Linked DNA regions of Homo sapiens: region 1 is linked to region 2. The links come from fine-mapping of genetic effects on gene expression. A gene starts in region 2. The other region holds a variant in brackets. All regions are shown on one strand. Distances are between the middles of the regions. Region 1 overlaps CYP39A1 (cytochrome P450 family 39 subfamily A member 1). Region 2 holds the start of TDRD6 (tudor domain containing 6).

Evidence for each region. PIP is the estimated chance that this variant, and not a neighbour inherited with it, causes the effect.
Region 1: its variant is fine-mapped to the expression of TDRD6 in tibial nerve (GTEx, PIP above 0.99). The same link has a PIP of 0.9 or more in atrial appendage, gastroesophageal junction, nucleus accumbens and sigmoid colon.

Annotation. Positions count from the first base shown.
Region 1 is chr6:46,629,101-46,632,014 of GRCh38, forward strand. It overlaps CYP39A1 (cytochrome P450 family 39 subfamily A member 1), which reads right to left. Exons shown (of 12, transcript NM_016593.5): 6 at 1,863-1,970. Among named protein-coding and RNA genes, the nearest start is that of CYP39A1, 22 kb to the right of the region's middle. The variant A/C (reference allele first, on the strand shown) is at 1,462.
Region 2 is chr6:46,686,215-46,689,128 of GRCh38, forward strand. TDRD6 (tudor domain containing 6) reads left to right here and starts at 1,671. Exons shown (of 4, transcript NM_001010870.3): 1 at 1,671-2,914. The coding sequence starts at 1,915. TDRD6-AS1 (TDRD6 and SLC25A27 antisense RNA 1) reads right to left here and starts at 1,951. Exons shown (of 2, transcript NR_134643.1): 1 at 1,720-1,951.

The DNA of each region.
Region 1 (2,914 bases), 57 kb before region 2:
CAGGATCTCTGCCTGCTCACCAGGCTGCCTCTTGGAGGTGCCAACAAGAGCCAGTGAGATGGAATATTCTCTAATCATCAGACACTTTCTTTCTGAAATGAATGATTTAAATCCTTTCAGACCAGCGCCAAGAACAAATTCCAAAGAACCGACTTCCCCTGTGTCAGATCAATGGGGCTTTGTGTGTCTTTCTTCCGGGGGATGTTTCTAACAAGATATTGAAAAATAATTCTTTGACAGGAGTGCCTGTTTTGTTGCTACTTTGAGAGTTGTTTTGATGTTTGTTTCTCAATTTTGCTATAGCTTAATCAGTTTCCAAGAATATTATTTAAGGAAAAACCAGAGAAGAATATTATAGGTACATAAAGAAGGGGAAGGGTTTAGACTACTTTTACTTGACCATATCAGATGAAATGTATATTCCACTGGCTAACATACCTTTGAGAAAAGAGGCCAGAATTTCTATCCCTTCTCTTTATGCAGTAAATTTTTCAACAAGTTAAGGGAAACTAGAATATCATGACTGAGAAAGCCTTTAACAACCTAGGCCTTTATAAAAGTAAGGCTAAATAAATAATACTTAAAACATCTTCCTAATTTCTATCTGTTAGAAGAAAAAGGAAGAAAAATGCCCACACATATCATCATGGATAGGTTAAATCCTCCTGTTTAGTAGAAAACAAGTATATTTAAAAAGTTACCCTTTAATTTCAGATAATATAAGTAGCATCTTAGGCTAATGTGAGAACCTCCTGGCCCAGGAAACTGTTGGCACTGAACATGACGTGACAGACAAATCTCATGGCTCTAATCTAATGCAAGACAGATTTTAAAAGAAACAGTTTTTTAGCCGGGCCCAGTAGCTCACGCATGTAATCCCAGCTGCTCAGGAGGCTGAGGCAGGGGAATCGCTTGAACCCGGGAAGCAGAGGTTGCAGTGAGCCGAGATCACGCCATTGCACTCCAGCCTGGGTGATAGAATGAGACACCATCTCAAAAAAACAAAACAAAACAAAACAACAACAACAACAAAAAAACCCACAAAAAACAGTTTTTTAAGTCTTGCCTCTCTTTAGAAGTGTTGAAAGTTCCAATTTCACCAGCACCATTCATGCGGAAGCTTGTAGGACCATAATGCTAAGCAATGCAAACAGGAATGGCACACAGAAGGAGAATGGGTACAAATGGAGAGAAAGAGCTAATATTCATTGATACCAGCTAGGCTTATCTTATTAAATCCTCATAACAACTTTGTAGAGAAATGAGAATTACCATTTATTGAGCACCCAAGTTCTAAGACCACAGTGGGAGGTTCACATACATTATCCCTTTTTTTACCCTTATTAGGTAAAATAGTACATTATCTCTTATTAGGAAATGGAGGCACAGAAAATTTAAATTACCACCATGACAGTCTACAACTACAAATTGGGATGTCTGGATCCAAGCCCAAGTTACCTG[A/C]AACTATCCATTTACTTACTCTTTCCAATAAAAGCATGTGGCCAATCCCTATTCATCTTTTCAATACCAATACTGAGCACATTGGTAGACATACAAAAAGTGTTCCATAAACAGATGTTGTCTACAACTGGCCCCAAAGGGCAAGCTTTTCCCTCATCCTGTTACACACTGCCTTTCAGAGGACAGAATTTGCTTGAGATCTGTTTCGTCTCCTTTGTAACCTAATCAGATTTCATTAGGCATTCAGTTTTGGTTTTTATCTCACAACCAAATCCACTGTAGTTTTTTTCTTTTCCATAATGAGTGATGAGTGGAAAAAAGAATGGAAGACAGAAATGAAGGAAAAAAAGATGAAAGGACAGTGGAGAGCAACGTAACTCATACTTTACTAATATACTTACAGGAACAGCATTAGACAGAGAAGCCCAAAGCAGTAAGAGCCCATAATTGGGTGAGTTTTCCTTACTTGTTTCCGTCTCTACAATATCCAGCGTAGCTTGCAATAATGTCTGTTTAAAAGAAATAAACATTGCCAAACCATGGCTATGTGACAAATATCGATGTTAATAAACAAGAGATCATGCCTTTTTCTTTAATATGAAAGATATCATTTCTGCCATTCCCAGGTTTTGCAGTTTGAGGCATGTGAAGGGATTTATGTCCTTACTGTAGTATAGTAATTAGGAGTAGGGATTCTGGAGCTTGACCGCCTCACTGCATTTGTTCAAATCCTGGCTCAGCTATTTAAGAGCTGGATGACCTTGAACAAGCTACTTTAATCTCTCTGTGCCTCTGTGTCCTCATCCATAAAATGTTCATAATATGGTACCTACCTCGTAGGATTGTTGTGAGAATTAAATGAGTTAGTACCTAAAAAGTGCTTAAAATAAAACCTTTCAGAGGGTAAAATGCACTTTGGATCTCTACTTTACCAAACTGAATTGGCAAATTGTGTGTTATTATCTCTGCCCTCCACACTGCTCTGGAATCCCTGTCTTATAAACCTCTGCTCTTAGCAAAATGCAAGCAATAGAGAAACACACATCTCTGGTGCATTCAGGAGAAAACTACACCCCCATCCACCATACAGATTCTCAGCCCATTCACCATGGGAGACAGAACTGCCAAGCCAGAATATTACAAATACCACAATACTCTAAAACCATACAGAGAACGGACATTTGACTTGAACAGTGACAGCTCAGGGCAGGGCCCCATCCAAGGCTACCCATCTCAAGACATGTTGTTCTCAAGTCACCAAACAAATCCCACTAAAGTATTTTCTTCATCGGGCGGTTTCCCCAGATTTGTCTTTGCCAGTGACGGCTCTCCATCATGGGAAAAAATTCAGACACTGTAACATTTTCATTAAGTTACTCATCTACTTTTAATCTTAAATAACTTATGTCTAGGTGATAGAAATAATGGGAGCTAATATCAACTCACTGCTTGC
Region 2 (2,914 bases):
GATGGATTAAAGTCTCCATTATTCCATGTAATGATAAAACAATTTCAAGTGATCATAAGACCATTTTATAATGAATTCCTTCTTTCCACTGTAAAGGCCATAGTGTTAGATTGCTTACTCTTGTTAAGATTTACTGGATGCTAACAGTCCAGCACTGGCTAGGCATCGAGAACATAAAAATAAATGAGAAGTGTTCCTGCTTTTAAGATGTTCCTACTGTGGCAAACAGAGAGCTACAAAATATAATAATATAGAAGTATGTAAAAAAAAAAAAAAAAAGGAATAACCAATTCTGCCAGGTTGAATAGTAGGGTCACGAGGAAACGACGTTTGAGCTAGGTCTTGCTAGATGTTTTTAAATAAAATGTTTTTCTTCCATAATGAATATGAAACAATTAGAAAAAAAATGGGAAAATTGAGTTTTCAAGGATGAGTTCTTCAGGAAAAGAAAAGCTTTGGCTTTTAGAGAAATTGGATTCATTCATTCATTCATTCATATTCATTTAGCAAATATTCATTGCCTTCACTCCAAGCTAGATTCCGAGAATCCAACAAACGGTACTTGCCAAAGGGAACCTGTCGGCTGGTGGGATGATAGAGATCAGACAGTTGCCACACAATGTGAAAAGTGCCGTGAAAAAGTAAGCATAGGGTGATGTGGAAGCACATGGTTGCCTCTAATCTGGACAGACTGAAGACACTGAGATTTACAGTTAGGCCAGGGTCATTTGAAGCACTGCCTTGTTGTATTTGTATGTAATGACATTTCGAAACGTGGAATGAAAGGAAAAGTACAGGCAGACTATAAGAAGCTTCCACGGATGTGTCTAACTTTGCAAATGAACAAAAATCTAATGTAGACATATCCTGGAAACTTCTAGTTTGCCTGCACTTTTCCATTCCAAATGGAGGTTTGGACATTTAACAGAGGCCTCAAAGGGTTATCCTGTTAAGATTTTAGTATATACAGCAGGGGCTTGAAGGAATGTTGATTCCATTCCTCTTGGCCTCCTTTTATGAATCCAGTTCTGTGCTAGCTCTGTGAGTAAATGAAAATGCCTTCAAAATTGGGATGCCAGAGTTAGACAGCAAAGGAGCAAAGGAACCCGTATCAGCTAAGTGTGGGAAGGGAAATATGTACCAGTTGCTATATACTTTCACACGTTATTTTAACCTCATAACAACTCTTATCAATTCAGATGATGGAACAGGGTTAAAGAATAGAGGCTGAGCACCTGGCTGTCCACGGACACACTGAGCCAGCAGGAGCACCCGTGCCCCGCAGCAGCACCCAGGGCCCTCCTAGAGTTCCGGCCTTAACGCCTAGGAACGTGCCATTGGCTCCTGCGTTTCTCGTTCCCGTCGGGAACGCCACTGGCTAGTACCTTGCCTGGCCCCCAGTGCTCAATCCCTGGTAGTTGGGAGGACGAAAAGGAAATCCCTCTCTGGTCGGTCCTCACCGCAGCCCTGTGTCAGGCCGTCACACGGCGGCCTCCAGAGTCGAAGGCGCTCTGAGGAGATGCAGGTTGTGTCCAAAACCTCCCACCTCGGGGTCTCCTGAACGTCCCAACAAGCTCCTTGGGCCCTTAGGCGTTAGGCCAACCCCAGGCCTCGGCTGGCCCCGCCCACTCTCCGCGGCCGGAAGTGGCGGCGCCGAGTGAGGTAAATGCGTGCCCGGAAGCGCGACCTCGGGCGGTTGGAGGGGCTACCGGGTCTTACCAGTCCGTGGCGGGAGTCCCGGAGGACCCTCGACGGGGGAGTTGCCGAGAAAAGGCCTCGCCGGCATTCTTCCCCTCCACTGGGTCCTTTGAACCTAGTTTGGCTGGGACTCGCCTTCAGGCGGCGCGGAGGATTTCGAGGCCCTGAGGCGCGGCCCTTAATTTCCGGAAGTGGGGGCCGCGCCGCGCCGTCAAGATGTGCTCGACGCCCGGAATGCCGGCGCCGGGGGCCTCGCTGGCCCTGCGGGTGTCCTTCGTGGACGTGCATCCCGATGTGATCCCGGTGCAGCTGTGGGGGCTGGTGGGCGAGCGGCGGGGCGAGTACCTGCGGCTGAGCCGGGAAATCCAGGAAGCGGCGGCCACGCGCGGCCAGTGGGCGCTGGGCAGCGCCTCGGCCTCGCCCGGCGAGCTGTGCCTGGTGCAGGTCGGGCTTTTGTGGCACCGCTGCCGCGTGGTCAGCCGGCAGGCACAGGAGAGCCGTGTCTTCCTGCTGGACGAGGGCCGCACCATCACGGCCGGAGCAGGCTCGCTGGCGCCTGGGCGCAGAGAGTTCTTCAATTTGCCCTCGGAAGTGCTGGGCTGCGTGCTAGCGGGCCTGGTGCCGGCAGGCTGCGGCGCGGGCTCAGGCGAGCCGCCGCAGCACTGGCCCGCCGACGCCGTGGACTTCCTTAGCAACCTTCAGGGCAAGGAGGTGCACGGGTGCGTCCTGGACGTGCTGCTGCTCCATCGCCTGGTCCTCCTGGAGGTGCCTGATGTGTTCCAACAGATGCGGGAGCTGGGCCTGGCTCGGCGGGTGCCCGACAGCCTCTTCCGTTCGCTGCTGGAGCGCTATCTCACAGCGGCCACTGCTAGCGTGGGCTCCGGGGTCCCGGTTCTCTCGCGAGTCCCGCTCAAGCAAAAGCAGCCTGGTCTGGATTACTTCTATCCCCAGCTGCAGCTGGGCGTGACGGAGGCCGTGGTCATAACCCAAGTGTGCCATCCCCACCGCATTCACTGCCAGCTCCGCAGCGTCTCGCAGGAGATCCACCGCCTCTCCGAGAGCATGGCCCAGGTATACCGGGGTTCCACGGGGACAGGGGATGAGAACTCTACCAGTGCCACCTGGGAGGAGAGGGAGGAGAGCCCAGATAAGCCGGGCTCTCCGTGTGCATCCTGTGGCCTGGATGGACATTGGTACAGAGCACTGTTGCTTGAGA